Regions from separate parts of the Homo sapiens genome. Here region 1 is linked to region 2. Evidence: fine-mapped QTL for protein levels in blood plasma. Region 2 holds a variant in brackets. A gene starts in the other region. All regions are shown on their reverse strands.

Region 1 (11,157 bases), not on the chromosome of region 2:
GAAATCCCGTCTCTACTAAAAATACAAAAATTAGCTGGGCATGGTGGCATGCGCCTGTAGTCCCAGCTACTCTGGAGGCTGAGGCAGGAGAAAGAATCGTTTGAACCCGGGAGGCGGAGGTTGCAGTGAGCCGAGATCACGCAGCTACACTCCAGCCTGGCGACAGACCAAGATTCAGTCTCAAAATAAAAAAAAAAAGAAAAAAGAAAGAAAATACCAGTCACTCTCCAATCTTCACATTCTCAACTCTTGAACCTCCCCACAAATGTTTGGAAGGTAGGCCAAGTTAAAAACAAAACTATAGCTTTACTTGTTCTTGACATAGAATTGGAAATACCGCATATATGTTTCAAGAATATACATTGTACATTGTGCATGGACAAATGCACAACAATTATTATAACAAATCTTATTTTTTCTATTTTATCATTGACATATGTAATCAAAATAACCTTTTATTTGAAAAAAAATAGTGCCATGGTTCTCAGAAGAATGCATAAAATTGTAGCATTATACATGGTGAGAGAGGTAAGAAAATAATCTGAAATCTTGAATAATGCTGCCCTCAGTAATTAAAGCTCTTTAGTAATTAAGAAAATCCTTTTGTAATTAAATTTGCTAATACATGATTAAAAGTGAATCGATGGGGGTCAAGATTAAATAAGATACATAGAAAAAAACTTAGTTCTTAGGATAATGACAAAATATCAAATCCTGTTTTTATCTTAGTAAAAATAAATCATTTGAGTGTATTTTTAGCAACTTGTTTACCTGAATCATTGCAGGCATCTTCCATTACTCTCCAAGCATGTTTACATCCATTTGCATCACGTAAGCATTGCTCTCTTAAATATGTGCAATTATTGGTTTGGGAAGTGTATTCATTTTCCAAGCTTAACCCCATAGCTTGAATAACAACAACAAAAACAAGGTTGTAATATAAATTTGGCATCCATTTTCTTCAAATCTAAGTTATTAATGATAAAGAGCAGAATTATGGAAAATAACATGTAGTGAAATAATTGATGGTGGGAATAACCTTAACCTCCTCTCTAGCTGTAGATCTGTATTTCTTTTTATAGATTCTTAAATGAATATTTTAAATTTGCTCATTTTGACGTCTCATCATCTATTTATTCCTCAACTTATAATTTATTTTTATTACTATTATTCCATTAAAACTGCTCTTAAAAAAGTCTCTAATTACCCCTTTAAAATCTAACTTAATGGTTTTAAACTTTATCTCACCATTGACCATTTTGTTGACTTTTTTGTTTTTGAAACTCTTCCTTTGCCAGCCCTCCCTTCTGTTCTCTTGATATTTATCCACTTTGTATTTTCTGACCATAGCTAAAATTATTCCCAGGATCATTTTATTCTTCTAGTAAAGTATAATTTTAGCTTAGGTTCTCTTCTCAGACCTTTTCTATTTTCATTTTATACATTCTCTGCAGAAAATTCCATGTACTCTTATGGTTTGAACTAAAATGTTAGTCTGATGATTCTCAAATGTATAATTTAATCTCAGTATTTCCAGCGTTCCTGTCATAGGTACGTAATTGTTATCTCTACTTGAATGTTTCAGAAACACTTTCACAGGATCTTCATCATCATTGTTCCACTGTGGACCACTACTTCATTCACAATGCCACAATTAACATGAGAACTCAAACTAGAAATCTTGGTTTTGTGGTAGACTATTTTCCATCCTCAACTTCACTCTCCCATATTCATTCTTGCTAAATTTATTGACTTTCACTTTGAGCATTTGTTTAACTTATTAGTCAGTCTGCCTCCAGTTTGAATCTTATTCAGAACCTTATTCAGATAGGTTCTTTGTAACCCCTAATCTACCTGATGTACTATTCTAGTCTTGCCATTTTTCTGTTTTATATCCTTTAAACTATTTCTCATATCAGGGCTCTCATATTCCTCACCATGTGCAATCTGGAAGGTCTCAAGCATTTATCGTTTCCCGAATGATCCATGCTGTCTTCTACCTCTGCATACCTACTGTCTGATCCCTGATAAGTATTTTCTTTCTTTTTCTTCTGGAATAACCCTTTTTGTTGTTTAAAACTGAACACAATCATTAGCTATTTTCTGGAAACTTTACTTGAATTCTATACTCCCCTTTTTCCACACTCAAATTGAATTTGACATCTTCCATCCATTTACTAGAACTGTGGGGATCCCGCAATTACAGATTTTACTGTTCTGTAGTGTATATATTCATGTGCCTGTCTCCACCACTGGATTGTACAGCTTTACCCACAGACATTAAGGATAATTTATAACTGTATTTTTGTCACCAAACACAGTGATGCAGTATAGGTATTCAATAAATGAATATTGGCTTATACCCAAGTTATTAGATGTTTATATATAAGATATATAAATAACTGATAACATCTAAAAAATAATACCTTCCAGATATTTACAAGTTACTTTTGCTAGAGGAGAAATCCAGCAAGTTTTCTAAAAACAATCAAGAAAATAGCAATGTTAATTTAATATGTTACGCAAGTTAGTCAAATTGATTCTGCAAACATATGAAGTGACACTAGCCAAATCAATTAATAGAAAAAAATACAGGGATTGAAATTGTGTTACAGAGACAGTTGTAGTAACTGTCATCAAGAGAGTCAAGCTATAACTAAATAAGAGCCAAATTATTTGAATTTTTAAATGCTGTTGTTAATTATGAATCACCTGTGACAATGTAGAGTGATAGGCTTCAAGTAAGGGCTTGAAATCTCTCTTTTTTTTTTAAATCTTACCTCTTTGCAAATCTCATCTTATAAGAAGAATCCAAGACAACTGATTGGACCATGTGTACTACTTGCTGGGTCACTGCATTTGGAGATTAGGCCCATGGGTGTAGCTTGGTAACATTTTTCTTGCTGAGGGCTGGAGTGGAAATGGACATATCAGCTTTCTGTTTTCTCATGTGTTCATGGACAACCTCATCTAGCCAAGCCCTTGTACTCCTTATTTGGCTAGCCCAAAGAAAGAAAAAGAGGACTCTTTTGATCCTAGCACAAATTTACTTGGTCAAATCCAGTTTTCCAAAGACCCAGAAATAGAAATTTGAAGTCATAAACTCAACTTATAAGAAAATGGTATTTTATTTGCCATTAATCATTATATCTTGTGAAAAGCCCCTTCAAGAATCTTATAAGTGATAATATCCCAGATATATCATCAAAACTTCATCAGTACTTCAGAGTAATAATCACTTAGAAATACTACATGTTGTCTTCCCCAAATATGTTTTACTTCCTTTCACATTTTCAGTTTTTAATGTTTTACTTCCTTTCACATTTTCAGTTTTTGGTTGAACAAGCTTCTTAATAGATTATTTTATAGGATTTTCCACACTTCCTACTCAACAAAATATTGACTCAACTAAGAAAACCACCTCAATGATTTGGTCCACAAGAATCAAGAATGTATTACCTCTCCAAAATCTGTCTTATTCATTCCAAACTATGACTTGTGGTTTTGTATTTAACCTAGGATTTTTCAAGAATTTTCCTGTAATACTCAATGAAAAATAACTTCTATTTTTAAATTAATAAGATGGATAATGCTGCAAATTATATCAGTGTTTTAAAGATGTATGGGGCTTATTATCCTACTAAATGTTCTGAGATTTTAAAATTCATTGTTTTCCACATTTCTTTACCAACAGACATTTTCCTCATTATAAGACCTATTTAGATAATGTCAAACAAGCATTCTAAAAAATATAATATGGGAAATGTTGGTACAACATATCAAATAGTATAATTTTAGTTCTAACAATGTTAAGAAGTTATTTCCCTCCTTCATGCAACCTGGTGTCAAGTTAATTTAGAAGTAAAAGATGAAAATAAGAGGCCATTGCCTTTTCAACTGAGGTCATAATGAGTCTGTAATGTATTTTGTGAGCTTCATTATATTGCTGCCTGATCTATAAAAATTAAAGTTTCCTATATTTCTCTTTATCACAAAAAAGAACTAAAGAAATATTAACAATCTTTATAAAAATAAGAAAATATTTTAGGAATAATTACAAAAAGCAAAATTATGGAACAATGGAAAAATATTACTTAAACAAAAGAAAAACTGAAAATATAAGGGATTTCTCTCCTTCTTAACTTGTTTCCTTGACTTGATATGACTCTCCTTTTATGTTCGATACAATTTAAAGTAAACTTCTTTGCTTTCTGGCCCATAATTATGCCTTTATTCAAGTATATATTAGCTTAAACATAAAATGCCATATTTTTAAAATTACAATCTAGCTACAGTTACAATTATTCCTTTTCTGAATTCAGTTTATAGATTCTACCAAATGCTAAAGAAGATATAAAATATTCTCCAGTCACACATCTAGCAAATAGATTCATGGATTCTACATTAAATAAAAATAAATTATTTTTCATCAACATCTTATAATACATTCATCGGATCCAATACAAGAGAAGTAAGTCCACACTTGAGTTCTAGGTCATAAAAATTAATGAAAATATGAAGCATTCTGATATGGTGTTAAGTGGTTTTACTTCACTAAATTACTTCTAGTTAGCAAATATTAACACTGTAGGTAAATTGAATGTTTTAAATTAATCTTATTTTTGTTTAATTTCAAAGCAAAATAAATAAAATAGATAACAGTTTGAAATTTTTCATCTTATAACTTGTAAATAGATACTGGAAGGTTTTATTTTTATTTCTAAAAGGTTCTAACACATGTGTGAATTCCATTAATCCTAATAAGTAACTCAAAGTCATTGGGTCATTCTATACAATAAAACAGAAACAAGCTGAGAGATTAATACAATTTTCACATGCTGCATTATCTATAGAGTTAGAAATAAGTGAGTAAAAGTGAGTGTACATTTTTGCAAGAAGAATAAACCATGTTAAAGCATAAATTTGTAATTTACTTGGTACTTCATATTATAAGCCCCTGTTAAGCTTAAGTGTGATGGTATTCAGTTTACAAAGAATTAGTATTATGAATAATTCAGATAAACCAGAAGCACCATTCACTTACCCAAGAAAATAAACACTATCATGCTGGACAACTCACGGCAGTTCACCTGGAAAAAAAGGCAGATGCGTTTCTTCTGACAACTTTCTTAAGAGTAACTGTCCAGAATAAGGCTTCAGCCTCTGTGTTTGCTTCCTAAAGGCATTACCAATTCAAGTCAGCTTCCTATATCATCATTTCCTCCCCAGTGTTTCCTAAGTTGTGAACTGTTCTAATTATATTCAAATTCGATTATTCTCCTGAGGGTGCTGGTCTTGAATATTAGGATATTATGCCTCTAAGAAAGCCCATGAGCCAAATACTAAGAGAAATGATACATAATCTGCACGTTCATGAAAAAGGTTTATTTTCCTTAACTAAAATACAACACTACGTAAAAGCCTCCCAAATATGACCCAAAATTTTCAAAGACACTTGAGCATACTCAGTCTCCACTTGTTTAATTAGCCTCATTAAGGCAATTTCATGTCATTTGAGGATATAGAAAAGCTAAAAACGCATAATAGCCCTGGAAAATGTATGCAAAATCGAAGTTCTACTAGAATTAGCCTGATATAACTCAAACATACTGGGAAGCTGCTTCCCAAACAAAGAATGTTGTATTACATGTGCCACAAACCCCAGTATGCTTAAAAATTATGCCACTTCAGCTACAGTATCTGATACCTTCCAAGTACAGCTACAGTGTAAAAAACATACTCTTCTCAGTGATGCAGAAATTCTATGTTCCACTGGAAAGATAATCATCTACATTTGTGTGCATCACTTGACAACTATTTTTTTTCCTAGTTTCAATGAAGGGACTTATTTATCTTATGCCTTGGTTTGGCTACGCCCTTCCTCATGTAAACCTACAGCACATCATCTTTCTTGGGGTGTCATGAGACTTCTATTTCTAAATCACCTGGAGGCCTTTCTAGAATGAATGCTTAAAAAATAAAATGCTGCTTTGGCAAGAAATTAAGAAGAGATAGGGATGGGAGAGAAGTATTTGTGCAGTTACACCATTGAGTTTTTGATTGCATATTGTTCATGTTTATTTTATACCAGTAGAGAAGTTATACTATATTTTGTTTTCAGCAGGCATAATGAAAAAACACAGACTCTAGAGTCCAACAAACAAAAATTATAACACTGCTTTTCTCTATAGATCTAGATGAGTGACTTAGCATTGGAAGTTATTCACTCCTTTGTAAAATGTGTCAATTGTATTAATTCTTGCTGTAATATAAGGTATGTATATGAGGGGCTTATATCACAAAAAAATTGATTATATTACATTCACTGACTTAATTATTACATAATAGAAGGATTATAATATCATAAAATTAATCAATCTTTTCTTCTTTTCAAGGGATTGAGTCACTAAACTTTCCTAATGACTTCTACCAAGACAAGCTTAGATATAAGCCAACTTAAAAGGACTTAAACTAGGACAGAGTTGGTTACTACCATAGTTGAAGAGTCCGTGGGAAGAATTAATTTCAGGTGTGTTTTAAACTGTTTTCTCTGGGTCTAAGTTGTTTGTTTCCTCCTGTCTCTTACCTGCATTCTTCTCTACCAGTTCTATTCCCAGAAAGGCTATTTCCTTCTGGTGGGAAGATGGCTGTGAAGCCCTTGGCAAACATCCTTCTCTCTTAGAAAGCAGGGTAGAAAGTGTCATTCTTTTACTATTAAAGTTGCAGAATTAAGTCACATCAGTTCTAGATGTGTCAAGTGCCAATCAATTTTACAAAAGGAACTTACCCCATGTCCAGTATCATAGATACAGGTTGTCAGTGTAGTTGGCCCTTTTCAAAGCACAGAATCTGATGGTGCAGAAGGTGTGCATCACGAAGGAAAATTATGGTATTAGAAGAAGCAGCTGAAGGGATCTTGGGGCAGCAAAAACCACATGCTTAGTAATGTATCTAAGTGCTGAGTTTAAGAAGAGCAACCACAAGGAAAATAAACTTATGAAACAAAGGAAGAGAATAACATAATTTTCTGTTCAAGGAAGGCGATATAGTTATGACTTTCTAGAGTGCAGTGATCCACAGAACCTGAATATAAGACCCTGTGAATGGTGCTAATCTTTGCCAGACAAGTACAGCTGCTTCGGTCTATAACTTATAGGTATAGAAAGCACCTGTGGTCATATAGCTGTTTATCCAACACAAAATAATATCAGCTGTGTTACCACTGAATGCCTGTTCATTGAGCCATCAGTCCTCTTTGTGTATAGACTCCTTCTCAGGATAATATTTTCATGGCAAAAAAAAATTTTAAAGATCATAAAGGAAATTAAGTATGTTAAAATATACTTGTCAAAATATGTTTTAAATTTGTGATAAAGTAATACATATGCTTCCTCATTGCAGAAGGAAATATCAAGATCTAAGTGAGTCTAAAAATATTGTTGTTTCAGTGTAGTGATTATCACAGATCCTAATTTGAAAGAACTTCCACTAATAAAATGTTATATAAAAATATCTGTAACTTCTATTAGTGACAAAGATAGCACAGGAAGTACTGAATTTCAATGAGTTTAGTAAAAAGATAACACAATTTTACCCCAAGCAAATTATAGAACCTCAAATTCATAAACCCAAATTTAATGTCTACGAAAATAATACTCTCGATTATTTAAATGAAAGCTGCTATTGAATCAGAACATTGTAGAAATAGAATTATCAATTTTGATAGTTTCTAATTATAATGTGTGCCTAATTTTAAAATGTATTCTACATTTCAAGTAAAATGTTGTAATATATAAATGAAACAGAAGAAAGTACAGCTGCTCCGGTGGGAATTTTCATGAGTAGTCCTCAGCTCTACTTATTGGGCTTTGCCAGCACATTCACAGCTGCTACTGAAGCATCCCAAAGGCTCTGAAATTCCCATTCAAAATTCCCTAAATTTATGTAATTGCTTTTTGATAAATTTTGTTTTAGCTAACGTATCATTCTCATGACAGTTAAATGCACTAGACCTCACACCTTGGCAAAAGACATGTAATATTTACTAAAAGACTTTTGTATCAAAGACTCTACAAAAACAAAAATGAGGGACAGACACTAGTTGCATGAATTGGATAAACTAGAATGCAAATTAAGCTACATATAAAAGCGAAAAAAGAAAAATTGTTAAATAAAACTCTATGATAAATCAGTGAAAAAAACTTCATATTCAAGGGCACTTCTTTTTGGAACATAAAGTTGTTTAAAGCTTTTGTTCAGTGACATTCGACTTCCTCCAATCACCTTTGCATTACCACTATATTTGTCTACTTAAAACTTTTGTAGCATGCTACTGTCTGGAGGAGTCTGTTCAGCTCTAGCCAACCTAAAATTGACATTCTGAAAAGAATACATACATATGGTCATGAGTTTCTTGGCTAAAAGACCTGTAAACAGAGTTCTAAGATGCCAAGTAATAAAAGCAGACATGAAGCAGTAATTTTTGGAGAAATTAAACAACAACAACAAAAAAACTCTTGCTTTTTTTATTGGAAGACCTCACCAAAAAAAATAATAATAATTAGGTATACTTAATCACCTCACCATAACTTGCCCATCAAGCTCCTCACTCACAACCTGATGAGATGTGGCCAGGCATGGAGGGACAAGGCCGCCAAAACTGGGAGAAGCTGAGAAACCACAAGGAGCCAAGACTCTGAGGTTTGTTCTGCGGAGTTCAGATGGACTAACGTTACTGAGACTCAGTGGATGAAGAGGAAAAGATAAGTGCTAATTATGGGTGGCCTTTTATGCTTTACCAAGAAGACTAGAGTTTAACAGAAGAAAGAGAGGCTTTTGGTGAGTTCCAGAACAGAGTAACCTGGTTGGGTTTTGAAAAATTGCTTATGCAATGCTATGGAAGATGGTTTGGAAACAAGGTAAATTGCCTGTCACAAAGCTATGTCAGTAGTTTAGGGGAGAATGACAAGGGCTGAACTAAAAGTAGTAATGATGCAGAGAAAATGGTAGGTCCAAGAAATTTCAGAATTTAAAATTTACAGGATCTGGCAACCATTTGAGATGGTGGGCGGGTTGAGAAGGAGGAATGAATTCTTACTTTTGTTTTGCGTTACTTGGTGTTGGTTGTCACCATTTATCAAGGCACAAGACTCACAGTTCAATACTCTTTATACAAAATCATTCAATCCATTGATGAAGTTAAAAATTTTAATTAAACAGCCATTCCTTTGGCTCATGTCATCATTTGGGAAGATACGCTGCCTGTCTTCAAGAGAACTAAAACAGCTCCAAAAAATAAGATTGCCTTAGAGGATTATTATTAAGTTCTGGCCCTCAGTCTAGTAGGAAATAAAGAATGGACTCATTTATTATTTATGCTTTAAACAATGATATTGATGGAAGTGTTAATGATATTGCCAATTTATTTACTTATAAAAAAAGCTAAATGCTAGCCAGTATCTTAATGTAGGTATGCTAACATAAAATTGGTGGGTGAAAATATTTAAAGAGGATTAGTTCCATAATTCATTCTATATAACCTGAATATTTAATGGCATCAGGTTAGAATAAACCCCATGTAGCCCTCTTCATGATAAGGAGGTATATGTCATTTTCTTTCTTTTTTGGGTAAATTAATATACTCAATCATATCAGTCCAATTTGGCTGAGACAGTGCTATCCCCTTTCAGCTAAAATTGAGTAAGTCTCCATGGTTGTGTTTTGGTGATGGTCGTGTTACTCTATTAGTTGGGTCTGATTTTCAGAAATTTATTACATCTCTAAGACCATAGTTAAGACCAACTATTAAAAAGCATTCATAACGCCTTTAAATTCCTTATAACTCGTTTGCTACTCTCTGTTTCCCATTTTATGTAACTGCTAGAGTCTAGTGCACATTCCAATTATCACCGTGAAAAGATGTTATGTACCTGTTGATCCAGCGAGGTTATTACTAAATGAAGGAAGACCAACATCTTACCAGATCACCTCAAAACATTATACATTTGTATTCAAATTTATATGTTCTAGTCCTTTTTTTAAAAATAGGAGATAGTAACCTTTGAATTGTGGCCAGACACTGCCAACATTGTCTTTCAGAGAGACGACTGAATGGGGGTAGTGTATGGTCCTGCTGAATTCCAGATAGGGCAATTTTGTAAGGCCAGTTCTCTCAATGGTGCATTGGAAAGGGGCTTTGGACATTCCATGGGGGGAGATGTCCGACAGGAACATAAAAGGATTGTTAATAAGTTGCTAAGGCTACTGAAAACAGATCTATAACTGTTATAATGATCTTTTCCTTTTCAAAATAGTTTTTACATTGTAAAGTTTTGATACTTATATATATAGCATTTGAAAAATATAAGAAATAAAAGTAGCCAGGTGCAGTGGCTCACGCCTGTAATCCCAGCACTCTGGGAGGCCAAGGCAGGTGGCTCACCTGAGCTCAGGAGTTTGAGACCAGCCTGGCCAACATGGTGAAACCCTGTCTCTACTAAAAATACAAAAATTAGCAGGTAGCGGGGCATGGTGGCACATGCCTGTAACCCCAGCTACTCGGGAGGCTGAGGCAGGAGAATCACTTGAACCCAGGAGGCGGAGGTCGCAGTGAGCCGAGATTGTGCCATTGCACTCCAGCCTGGGCGACAAGAGCAAAATTCCAAAAAAAAAAAAAAAAAAAAAAAAGAAAGAAAGAAAAAGAAGGAAAGAAATAAAGAGAAGGAAAGGAAGAAAGAAAAGAAGGAAAGAAAGAAAGAAAGAAAGAAAGAAAGAAAGAAAGAAAGAAATGTATTCATATTTAAGACACCCAGATGTGTCTACTGTTACTTTTTGATGAACTTTCTTTAAACTGTTTTCCTTAGACTGATGTCAGCAACATGGCAGAATAGGAAGCTCCTGGCACTCCCAATACTCACAAATGCACAGAATGAACATCTCAATTAATTCCCTGTGAGAGAAAGTCAGAAATAAGTTGAGAGATTCCTGCCTACCAGGCAAGAAAGAAAACATGCATGGCCGGGCGCAGTGGCTCATGCCTTTAATCCCAGCACTTTGGGAGGCCAAGGCTGGTGGATTATTTGAGTCCAGGAGTTTGAGACCAGCCTGGATAACATGATGAAACCCTGTCTCTACCAAAAATACAAAAATTAGCTGGGA
Region 2 (11,157 bases):
GAGATGGTATCTCATTGTGATTTTGATTTGCATTTCTCTGATGGCCAGTGATGATGAGCATTTTTTCATGTGTCTTTTGGCTGCATAAATGTCTTCTTTTGAGAAGTGTCTGTTCATATCCTTTGTGCACTTGTTGATGGGGTTCTTTGATGTTTTTCTTGTAAATTTGTTTAAGTGCTTTGTAGATTCTGGATATTAGCCCTTTGTCAGATGGGTAGATTGCAAAAATTTTCTCCCATTCTGTAGGTTGCCTGTTCACTCTGATGGTGGTTTCTTTCGCTTTGCAGAAGCTCTTTAGTTTAATTAGATCCCATTTGTCAATTTTGTCTTTTGTTGCCATTGCTTTTGGTGTTTTAGACATGAAGTCCTTGCCCATGCCTATGTCCTGAATGGTATTGCCTAGGTTTTCTCCTAGGGTTTTTATGGTTTTAGGTCTAACATTTAAGTCTTTAATCCATCTCGAATTAATTTTTGTATAAGGTGTAAGGAAGGGATCCAGTTTCAGCTTTCTGCATATGGCTAGCCAGTTTTCCCAGCACCATTTATTAAATAGGGAATCCTTTCCCCATTTCTTGTTTTTGTCAAGTTTGTCAAAGATCACATGGTTGTAGATGTGTGGTATTATTTCCGAGGGCTCTGTTCTGTTCCATTGGTCTACATCTCTGTTTTGGTACCAGTACCATGCTGTTTTGGTTACTGTAGCCTTGTAGTATAGTATAGTTTGAAGTCAAGTAGCATGATGCCTCCAAGTTTGTTCTTTTGACTTAGGATAGTCTTGGCAATGTGGGCTCTTTTTTTGTTCCATATGACCTTTAAAGTAGTTTTTTCCAATTCTGTGAAGAAAGTCATTGGTAGCTTGATGGGGATGGCATTGAATCTATAAATTACCTTGGGCAGTATGGCCATTTTCACAATATTGATTCTTCCTATCCATGAGCATGGAATGTTCTTCCATTTGTTTGTGTCCTCTTATTTCGTTGAGCACTGGTTTGTAGTTCTCCTTGAAGAGGTCCTTCACATCCCTTGTAAGTTGGATTCCTAGGTATTTTATTCTCTTTGAAGCAATCGTGAATGGGAGTTCACTCATGATTTGGCTCTCTGTTTGTCTGTTATTGGTGTATTGGAATGCTTGTGATTTTTGCACATTGATTTTGTATCCTGAGACTTTGCTGAAGTTGCTTATCAGCTTAAGGAGATTTTAGGCTGAGACGATGGGGTTTTCTAAATATACAATCATGTCATCTGCAAACAGGGACAATTTGACTTGCTCTTTTCCTAATCGAATAACCTTTATTTCTTTCTCCTGCCTGATTGCCCTGGCCAGAACTTCCAACACTATGTTAATAGGAGTGGTGAGAGAGGGCATCCCTGTCTTGTGCCAGTTTTCAAAGGGAATGCTTCCAGTTTTTGCCCATTCAGTATGATATTGGCTGTGGGTTTGTCATAAATAGCTCTTATTATTTTGAGATACGTCCCATCAATACCTAATTTATTGAGAGTTTTTAGCATGAAGGGCTGTTGAATTTTGTCAAAGGCCTTTTCTGCATCTATTGAGATAATCATGTGGTTTTTGTCTTTGGTTCTGTTTATATGATGGATTACATTTATTGATTTGCATATGTTGAACCAGCCTTGCATCCCAGGTATGAAGCCAACTTGGTCGTGGTAGATAAGCTTTTTGATGTGCTGCTGGATTCGATTTGCCAGTATTTTATTGAGGATTTTTGCATCGATGTTCATCAGGGATATTGGTCTAAAATTCTCTTTTTTTGTTGTGTCTCTGCCAGGCTTTGGTATCAGGACGATGTTGGCCTCATAAAATGAATTAGGGAGGATTCCCTCTTTTTCTGTGGATTGGAATAGTTTCAGAAGGAATAGTACCAGCTCCTCTTTGTACCTGTGGTAGATTCAGCTGTGGATCTGTCTGGTCCTGGACTTCTTTTGGTTGGTAGGCTATTGATTATTGCCTTAATTTCAGAACCTGTTATTGGTGTATTCAGGGATTCAACTTCTTCCTGGTTTAGTCTTGGGAGGGTGTATGTGTCCAGGAATTTATCCATTTCTTCTAGATTTTCTAGTTTATTTGCGTAGAGGTATTTATAGTATTCTCTAATGGTAGTTTGTATTTCTATGGGATCGGTGGTGATATCCCCTTTATTGTTTGTTATTGTGTCTATTTGATTCTTCTCTCTTTTCTTCTTTATTAGTCTTGCTAGCTGTCTATCAATTTTGATGTTTTCAAAAAACCAGCTCCTGGATTCATTGATTTTTTGAAGGGTTTTTTGTGTCTCTATCTCCTTCAGTTCTGCTCTGATCTTAGTTATTTCTTGCCTTCTGCTAGCTTTTGAATGTGTTTGTTCTTGCTTCTCTAGTTCTTTTAATTGTGATGTTAGGGTGTCAATTTTAGATATTTCCTGCTTTCTCTTGTGGGCATTTAGTGCTATAAATTTCCCTCTACACACTGCTTTAAATGTGTCCCAGAGATTCTGGTATGTTGTGTCTTTGTTCTCATTGGTTTCAAAGAACATCTTTCTTTGTGCCTTCATTTCGTTATGTACCCAGTAGTCATTCAGGAGCAGGATGTTCAGTTTCCATGTAGTTGAGCGGTTTTGAGTGAGTTTCTTAATCCTGAGTTCTAGTTTGATTGCACTGTGGTCTGAGAGACAGTTTATTATAATTTCTGTTCTTTTACATTTGCTGAGGAGTGCTTTACTTCCAACTATGTGGTCAATTTTGGAGTAAGTGTGCTGTGGTGCTGAGACAAATGTATATTCTGTTCATTTGGGGTGGAGAGTTCTGTAGATGTCAGTTAGGTCTGCTTGGTGCATTTAGCCCATTTACATTTAAGGTTAATATTGTTATGTGTGAATTTGATCCTGTCATTATGATGTTAGCTGGTTATTTTGCTCGTTAGTTGATGCAGTTTCTTTCTAGCATTGATGGTCTTTACAATTTGGCATGTTTTTTGCAGTGGCTGGTACCAGTTGTTCCTTTCCATGTTTAGTGCTTCCTTCAGGAGCTCTTGTAAGGCAGGCCTGGTGGTGACAAAATCTCTCAGCATTTGTTTGTCTGTAAAGGATTTTATTTCTCCTTCACTTATGAAGCTTAGTTTGGCTGGATATGAAATTCTGGATTGAAAGTTCTTTTCTTTAAGAATGTTGAATATCGGCCCCCACTTCTCTTCTGGCTTGTAGAGTTTCTGCCGAGAGATCCGCTGTTATTCTGATGGGCTTCCCTTTGTGGGTAACCCGACCTTTCTCTCTGGCTGCCCTTAACATTTTTTCCTTCATTTCAACTTTGGTGAATCTGACAATTAATGTGTTTTGGAGTTGCTCTTCTCGAGGAGTATCTTTATGTTGTTCTCTGTATTTCTGAATTTTAATGTTGGCCTGCCTTGCTAGGTTGGGGAAGTTCTCCTGGATAATATCCTGAAGAGTGTTTTCCAACTTGGTTCCATTCTCCCTGTCATTTTCAGGTACACCAATCAGACGTAGATTTGTTCTTTTCACATAGTCCCATATTTCTTGGAGGCTTTGTTCGTTTCTTTTTTCTCTTTTCTCTCTAAACTTCTCGCTTCATTTCATTAATTTGATCTTCAATCACTGATACTCTTTCTTCCACTTGATCAAATCGGCTACTGAAGCTTGTGCATGCGTCATGTAGTTCTCATGCCATGGTTTTCAGCTCTATCAGGTCATTTAAGGTCTTCTCTACACTGTTCATTCTAGTTAGCTATTCATCTAATCTTTTTTCAAGGTTTTTAGCTTCTTTGTGATGGCTTCGAGCATCCTCCTTTAGCTCAGAGAAGTTTGTTATTACTGATCGTCTGAAGCCCTCTTCTCTCAACTCATCAAAGCCATTCTCCATCCAGCTTTATTCCATTGCAGGTGAGGAGCTGCGTTCCTTTGGAGGAGAAGAGGCACTCTGATTTTTAGAATTTTCAGCTTTTCTGCTCTGGTTTCTCCCCATCTTTGTGGTTTTATCTACCTTTGGTCTTTGATGATGGTGGCGTCCAGATGGGGTTTTGGTGTGGATGTCCTTTCTGTTTGTTAGTTTTCCTTCTAACAGTCAGGACCCTCAGATGCAGGTCTGTTGGAGTTTTCTGGAGGTCCACTCCAGACCCTGTTTGCCTGGGTATCACCAATGGAGGCTGCAGAACAGCAAATACTGCAGAACGGCAGATGTTGCTGTCTGATCCTCCCTCTGGAAGCTTCATCTCAGAGGGGCACCCAGCTGTATGAGGTGTCAGTCGGCCCCTACTGGGAGGTGCCTCCCAGTTAGGCTACTCAGGGGTCAGGGACCCACTTGGGGAGGCAGTCCAACTGTTCTCAGATCTCAAGGTGAGACCACCCTTTGAGTGGTCGTACACAGAAAATGTATAGCTTGCTGGGCCACAAACTGGTTCTGTGGATTCCCTGACCCTCTGACCTTTGGTTTCATCTCAGTAACAGTGGTCCGGGATACATAACAGCCAGTAACTGTAAGGTGATCGCTTTTCTGTGGCCTGGAATAAGTGCGGCAGGCAAGGAAAGGCTACAGAGGCCTGGCTCTTACAGCAGCCGGTCTTCCTAGCCACCCCCGCCCACCCCACCCCTTCCGTTCACACACTGCAGCTAACTTGGTCCCTGGGCCTGGCTTGGGACAGACAGAGGCGTCATCTTGTTCTCATATGCGGGAAGGCTATGAAAAGAAAACCGCGTGTTGGTCCAAAATGTAAACAAGAATTACACTAGGATCTTTTGTTCTCACTCTGACATGGTCAGAATTAATTTGGAGGTCCAAAAAGAGGGCGTTTTGTTTTTTAATCTGAATTACTTAATGCAGGGATATGTAGGGGGTGGTGGGGAAGAAACAAAAATACGTTGCTTAAGTCTATCAGTTGGTATTGGACCATCCCCAGGTCATTCTTCAGGGTCCAGTTTTTGTCATTAGGGGGTTCCTAACTTAGACTTCATATCCAAGTTGCTGATTAAACTTACTGTGAAAAGACCTAGATGGTAGAAGGCAAGCAGTGGAATGTGTCTGGGTATCCGAGAAATATACAGAAAGCACTTAAGAGAACTTAATCATTTTTTTCTCCCTTTCCTTAGATTGAATAGGGAAAACCTGCTTTCTGCAAACAACTGAAAAAGCTGCATTTAGAAACTGTTTCTTTGGCCCTCATCGAGAAGCTGGAACTTGTATTGTTAGGCCCCTTATGGGACAAGCTCTCAACTGCTGATCACCCAGTGATTGTCACCATGGCCAGCAAGAGGAAATCCACCACACCATGCATGATCCCAGTGAAGACTGTGGTGTTGCAAGATGCCAGCATGGAGGCCCAGCCCGCTGAGACCTTGCCTGAAGGACCCCAGCAGGATCTGCCCCCAGAAGCATCTGCTGCCAGCAGTGAGGCAGCACAGAACCCCAGCAGTACTGATGGCTCTACACTGGCCAATGGGCATCGGAGCACTTTAGATGGCTATTTATATTCCTGTAAATACTGCGATTTCAGATCCCATGACATGACCCAATTTGTGGGACATATGAACTCAGAGCACACAGACTTTAATAAAGACCCAACCTTTGTATGCAGTGGGTGCAGTTTTCTGGCAAAAACCCCTGAGGGGCTTTCCTTGCACAATGCCACATGTCACTCCGGGGAAGCCAGCTTTGTGTGGAACGTGGCCAAGCCAGACAATCATGTGGTTGTGGAGCAGAGCATCCCTGAGAGCACCAGCACTCCTGACCTAGCGGGTGAGCCCAGTGCTGAAGGGGCTGATGGACAGGCAGAAATCATCATTACCAAAACTCCAATCATGAAGATAATGAAAGGCAAAGCTGAAGCCAAAAAAATTCATACACTCAAGGAGAATGTCCCTAGCCAGCCTGTGGGTGAGGCCTTACCAAAGCTGTCGACTGGAGAAATGGAGGTGAGAGAGGGGGACCATTCCTTCATCAATGGGGCAGTTCCAGTCAGCCAGGCATCTGCCAGCTCTGCAAAAAACCCCCATGCCGCCAACGGGCCCCTGATAGGAACAGTGCCAGTTTTGCCAGCTGGCATAGCACAGTTCCTCTCCCTCCAGCAGCAGCCCCCAGTGCATGCCCAACACCATGTCCACCAGCCACTGCCCACGGCCAAGGCCCTTCCCAAAGTGATGATCCCCCTGAGCAGCATTCCAACGTACA[A/G]TGCAGCCATGGACTCTAACAGCTTCCTGAAGAACTCCTTCCACAAGTTCCCCTACCCCACCAAAGCCGAGCTCTGCTATTTGACTGTGGTGACCAAGTATCCAGAAGAACAGCTCAAGATCTGGTTCACAGCCCAAAGGCTGAAGCAGGGGATCAGCTGGTCCCCTGAGGAGATTGAGGATGCCCGGAAAAAGATGTTCAATACAGTCATCCAGTCTGTGCCTCAGCCCACAATTACGGTTCTAAATACCCCACTCGTCGCCAGTGCTGGCAATGTCCAGCATCTCATCCAGGCCGCTCTTCCAGGTCACGTTGTGGGGCAGCCAGAGGGTACAGGAGGGGGACTTCTGGTCACTCAGCCATTGATGGCCAATGGGTTGCAAGCAACAAGTTCCCCTCTCCCCCTCACGGTGACATCCGTCCCCAAGCAGCCAGGTGTGGCACCCATTAACACTGTGTGTTCAAATACAACGTCAGCTGTGAAGGTGGTCAATGCGGCCCAGTCGCTCCTCACGGCCTGCCCCAGCATAACCTCCCAAGCCTTCCTTGATGCTAGCATCTACAAAAATAAGAAATCTCATGAACAGCTGTCAGCTCTGAAAGGGAGCTTCTGTCGGAACCAGTTCCCAGGGCAGAGCGAAGTTGAACATCTCACAAAAGTGACGGGCCTCAGTACCAGAGAGGTGCGGAAATGGTTCAGTGATCGTAGATACCACTGCCGGAACTTGAAGGGCTCCAGAGCGATGATACCTGGAGATCACAGTTCCATCATCATTGACTCTGTGCCAGAGGTGTCCTTCTCCCCATCGTCCAAGGTCCCTGAGGTAACCTGCATTCCGACAACAGCCACACTAGCAACCCACCCTTCTGCCAAACGACAATCTTGGCACCAGACTCCTGACTTCACACCAACCAAATACAAGGAGAGAGCCCCTGAGCAGCTCAGAGCCCTGGAGAGCAGTTTTGCACAAAACCCTCTTCCTCTTGATGAGGAACTGGACCGCCTGAGAAGTGAAACCAAAATGACCCGACGAGAAATTGATAGCTGGTTTTCAGAGAGACGGAAAAAAGTGAATGCTGAGGAGACCAAGAAGGCTGAGGAGAATGCCTCTCAGGAGGAAGAGGAGGCTGCTGAGGATGAGGGTGGAGAAGAGGATTTGGCCAGTGAGCTAAGGGTCTCTGGTGAAAATGGCTCTCTGGAAATGCCCAGCAGCCATATCTTGGCAGAGCGCAAAGTCAGCCCCATTAAAATCAACCTGAAGAACCTGAGGGTCACTGAAGCCAATGGCAGGAACGAGATTCCAGGGCTGGGTGCCTGTGACCCTGAGGATGATGAGTCAAACAAACTGGCAGAGCAGCTCCCAGGCAAAGTGAGCTGCAAAAAGACTGCCCAGCAGCGGCACTTGCTGCGGCAGCTCTTTGTCCAGACACAGTGGCCAAGCAACCAGGACTATGACTCCATCATGGCCCAGACGGGTCTGCCACGGCCAGAGGTGGTGCGCTGGTTTGGAGATAGCAGGTACGCACTGAAGAACGGCCAACTCAAATGGTACGAAGACTATAAGCGAGGCAACTTCCCACCAGGGCTACTGGTCATTGCCCCTGGCAACCGGGAGCTCCTGCAGGACTATTACATGACACACAAGATGCTGTATGAAGAGGACCTGCAGAACCTCTGTGACAAGACCCAGATGAGCTCCCAGCAGGTCAAGCAGTGGTTTGCTGAGAAAATGGGGGAGGAGACCAGAGCCGTGGCAGACACAGGCAGTGAGGACCAGGGCCCTGGTACTGGTGAGCTCACAGCAGTTCACAAAGGGATGGGTGACACCTATTCAGAGGTGTCTGAGAACAGTGAGTCGTGGGAGCCCCGTGTCCCTGAGGCCAGCTCAGAGCCCTTTGACACATCGAGTCCCCAGGCTGGACGTCAGCTCGGTAAGGAGTCCACAGGGGCCATGGCTATCCTGTGTGGGTAAGGGGAGGAGGCACTTATGGTTGGGCACTGAATTTACTGCACAGGGGCATCTGCTGTCTCTAAGGCTGCCTGGCAGCAGCATTAACCGCCTGGCTGCTTCAGAGGACAACTAGCAGCAGAAGCCATAGGAATATAATATGATAAACGGTTGAGAGCTGTTTTTTGTTTCATGTGTTTTTAAAAACCTGCGCAGGGGAAGGAACATGGTGACCCTAAAGGGGTCCAAGCTTTTCTAGCCATTTCTTAGCAATAGGAGAACAGGTCAAAACATCCTCTGAGTCGGGCAGATCCACAGCCACTGGGTAGGAGACAGCAACAGGACATGAGTTGAAATTCAGCTCAAATTGATGAAAAGGAAAGAGAGCCTTTAATTGTCCTTAGATACATAATGTGCTTTTTTCTGATGATGAAAGTCTTGTGTTTCTCTGGTTATGCCTGATGTAGAAGAAATGTTTAGTATAATGGAAAATCACCTTCCTTCTTTGACATACATGGAATCAAAAGCTTGAATTTTGTTCCTCAGTTTCTCTGGATTGTACTCGAAAGCAAAATGTATCATAGAAGATTATTTTTATTTAAGACATAGTTTTGAAGCCACAGACAAGTCATGTTATTACGTGTTGATTTTCTAGGTTCCTGGTCACTGAGTTCCCAGCCTCTCCCTTCCCTCCTTACCCTTTGACATTTGTGTTCTCATTAGAGACCCCATCAGAGGGCAGCCAGAAGCTCAGGTGAGAGCCAGGAGGGCGGAGTATTGTAGAAGCTGAAGGGATTGGGGGTTCCAAAATGGCAGCATTGCTAGCTGAGTTGGCAATGTGGGAGGGGGTACAGGAGACACTATTTGTGGTGTTGGGCAATGTGATGGTTCCGTGGTGACTTTGGCATGAGCTGCCTCAGTGTGGGGCCTTGTGTTTGGTACCTCATCCCCAGGGCCAACCATAGTGGCCTATCCCTCAGAAATCCCACAGAATTTCCTGGATGGTGTTGCATTGTTTCCATACAATAGCCAACCATTGTTGTTTGTTTATTTTGGCCTGGCAAATCCCAGCTCCTCCACCCCAGTTGCTTTCTACTTAGGATGTCTTAAAAAGGACAAAATTCTTTTTCTTTCTCTGAATATTTTAAATTCATTTGAACACAACAGTTTGAAACATAGTTATGCTATTGTTTCTTTACTGAATTAAGGAAAAAGAGACTTCCTTTTTGGCCCATAATTTGGTGGGTTGGGGGCGGGGAGTACCATGTCATCCATCTGTTTAGCATTTGCAGAAAGCCTGTTCTTCTCATATTAACATACTAAGGCAAAATCCAGTTCCACAAAGCCCACAGTGAGAGCAAACACCTGGTGGAGCCCAAAGCCCTGGTCAGCACTTAGGGTAGGAGTACAAGGGCCACTGGCTCCCTTACAGCCTCCTCCAACTCCAGCCATGTTTTCAATACGGCAACAACAAAACACTCCCCTCCTTTGGGGCCCACAGCTCACAGCCTGCTTTATAAAGTAGCTGATGGCACACCCTGGAGTCAGAACAACAGGTTTTTATGGCTAGTTTAACTTTTTTATAATGCAGAGCAGGTAGTCTCTCCTACAAGTCTTTGTCCAAGTTTGTAAGTTGGTCCTTATATTATACCCAGCTCTGTGCTTCTTGTAATATACCAGTAGGCCAGGGTGTCATGCTCAAGAGAGATGAGGATGTTTGAACAAGTTGATTACGAAAGCTGACATGGAGAATGATGTTATGGAAGATGGCAGTAGCAGCACCAGGAATCTTTTCCTCCACCAAAGCAGTTGAGCTGGCAGTAATTGTCTCAAGCAACTGTTTTGGGACTCAGAAGTCTAGTTGAACACTTGCAACATCCAGGGAAGAGCTTGATGGAGAGGCTTACAAATTTTGATGGTTTTTTTTTGTTTCAGCATCCGCAAGCTCTGCAGCAGGCAACTGTGGAAAATGTTCCTGGTGCAGACTGTTGGTGCCAGGGTAGGCAATAACAACTTTGTCCTCCAAAAGTCAAGTTTTTGTGGCCAGGTGTGGTGGCTCACACCTGTAATCCCAGCACTTTGGGAGGCTGAGGTGTGGATCACTTGAGGTCAGGAGTTTGAGGCCAGCCTGGCCAACATGGTAAAACCCTGTCTCTATTAAAAATACAAAAATTAGCCAGGCATGTTGGTGAGTGCCTGTAATCCCAGCTATTTGGGAGGCTGAGGCAGGAGAATCACTTGAACCTGGGAGGCAGAAGTTGCAGTGAGCCAAGATGACACCACTGCGTTCCAGCCTGGGCAACAGAGTGAGGCTCCATTGCAAAAAAAAAAAAAAAAGAGTTTTTTGATTTCTGATTACTGCATTTAATCACTGAGGGGGCCAGTGCAGAGGCTGATCATTGTCTCAATGCCCTTGGGCAGAGGGAGCTTTCTAGCCACAAGGGGATTTAAAGAGACAGTACCTATTTTTTTTTTTCTTTATTCCTCCTTTTGGCAAGCCAGATATTTAAGGAAATCTTAGGTCACTGGTTAACCACAGAGATATCACAACAGAAACTTCACTGACCCCATACTGCAAAGAATACACACTTCACAAAAATAGTTGGAAAAGTCACAAATAGTTGGCTCCAGCCCTCAATAAGCAAAAATCAGCAATCTCTGAGGCATGACAGAATTAGATTCTCAGTTACCACAATGTAATACTCATAATGTCCAGTTCTCAACAAAAAATTACAAAACATAAAAAGAAATAGAAAACCATGGTCCATTCACAGGAAAAAAAATTGACAGGCACCATCCTTGAGGAAGTCCAGACATTGGAATTATTACCCAAAGACATTAAATCAACTATCTTAAGTATGTTCAGCGAGCTAAAGGAAAACATGGACGAAGAACTAAAGGAAATCAGGAAAACCATGCATGAACAAAATGAGAATATCAATAAAGAGATAGAAATTATAAAAAGGAACCAAACAAATTCTAGAGCTAAAAAGTATAATCCCTGAAATGGAAAACCCACTAGAGGGATTCAACAAAGATT

Alleles and levels. Positions count from the first base shown, and alleles are read on the strand shown. Strength reflects both the effect of a copy and how common the allele is.
In carriers of allele G in region 2, the plasma level of the protein whose gene starts at base 5,152 in region 1 tends to be higher than with A alone (weak association).

The links. PIP is the chance, under the fine-mapping model, that this variant and not a neighbour inherited with it causes the effect. Protein levels are from antibody-based Olink assays in UK Biobank. Linkage for the fine-mapping came from a reference panel and not from the study's own genotypes, which makes the PIPs less certain.
Region 1: GFRAL starts here. The variant in region 2 is fine-mapped to the plasma level of the GFRAL protein (UK Biobank, PIP above 0.99).

The regions. Positions count from the first base shown.
Region 1 is chr6:55,321,464-55,332,620 of GRCh38, reverse strand. It overlaps GFRAL (GDNF family receptor alpha like), which reads right to left and starts at 5,152. Exons shown (of 9, transcript NM_207410.2): 1 at 5,045-5,152; 2 at 772-906. The coding sequence starts at 5,066.
Region 2 is chr20:41,199,000-41,210,156 of GRCh38, reverse strand. It overlaps ZHX3 (zinc fingers and homeoboxes 3), which reads left to right. Exons shown (of 4, transcript NM_001384317.1): 3 at 5,091-8,100. The coding sequence starts at 5,241. Among named protein-coding and RNA genes, the nearest start is that of MIR6871, 36 kb to the right of the region's middle. The variant A/G (reference allele first, on the strand shown) is at 6,169.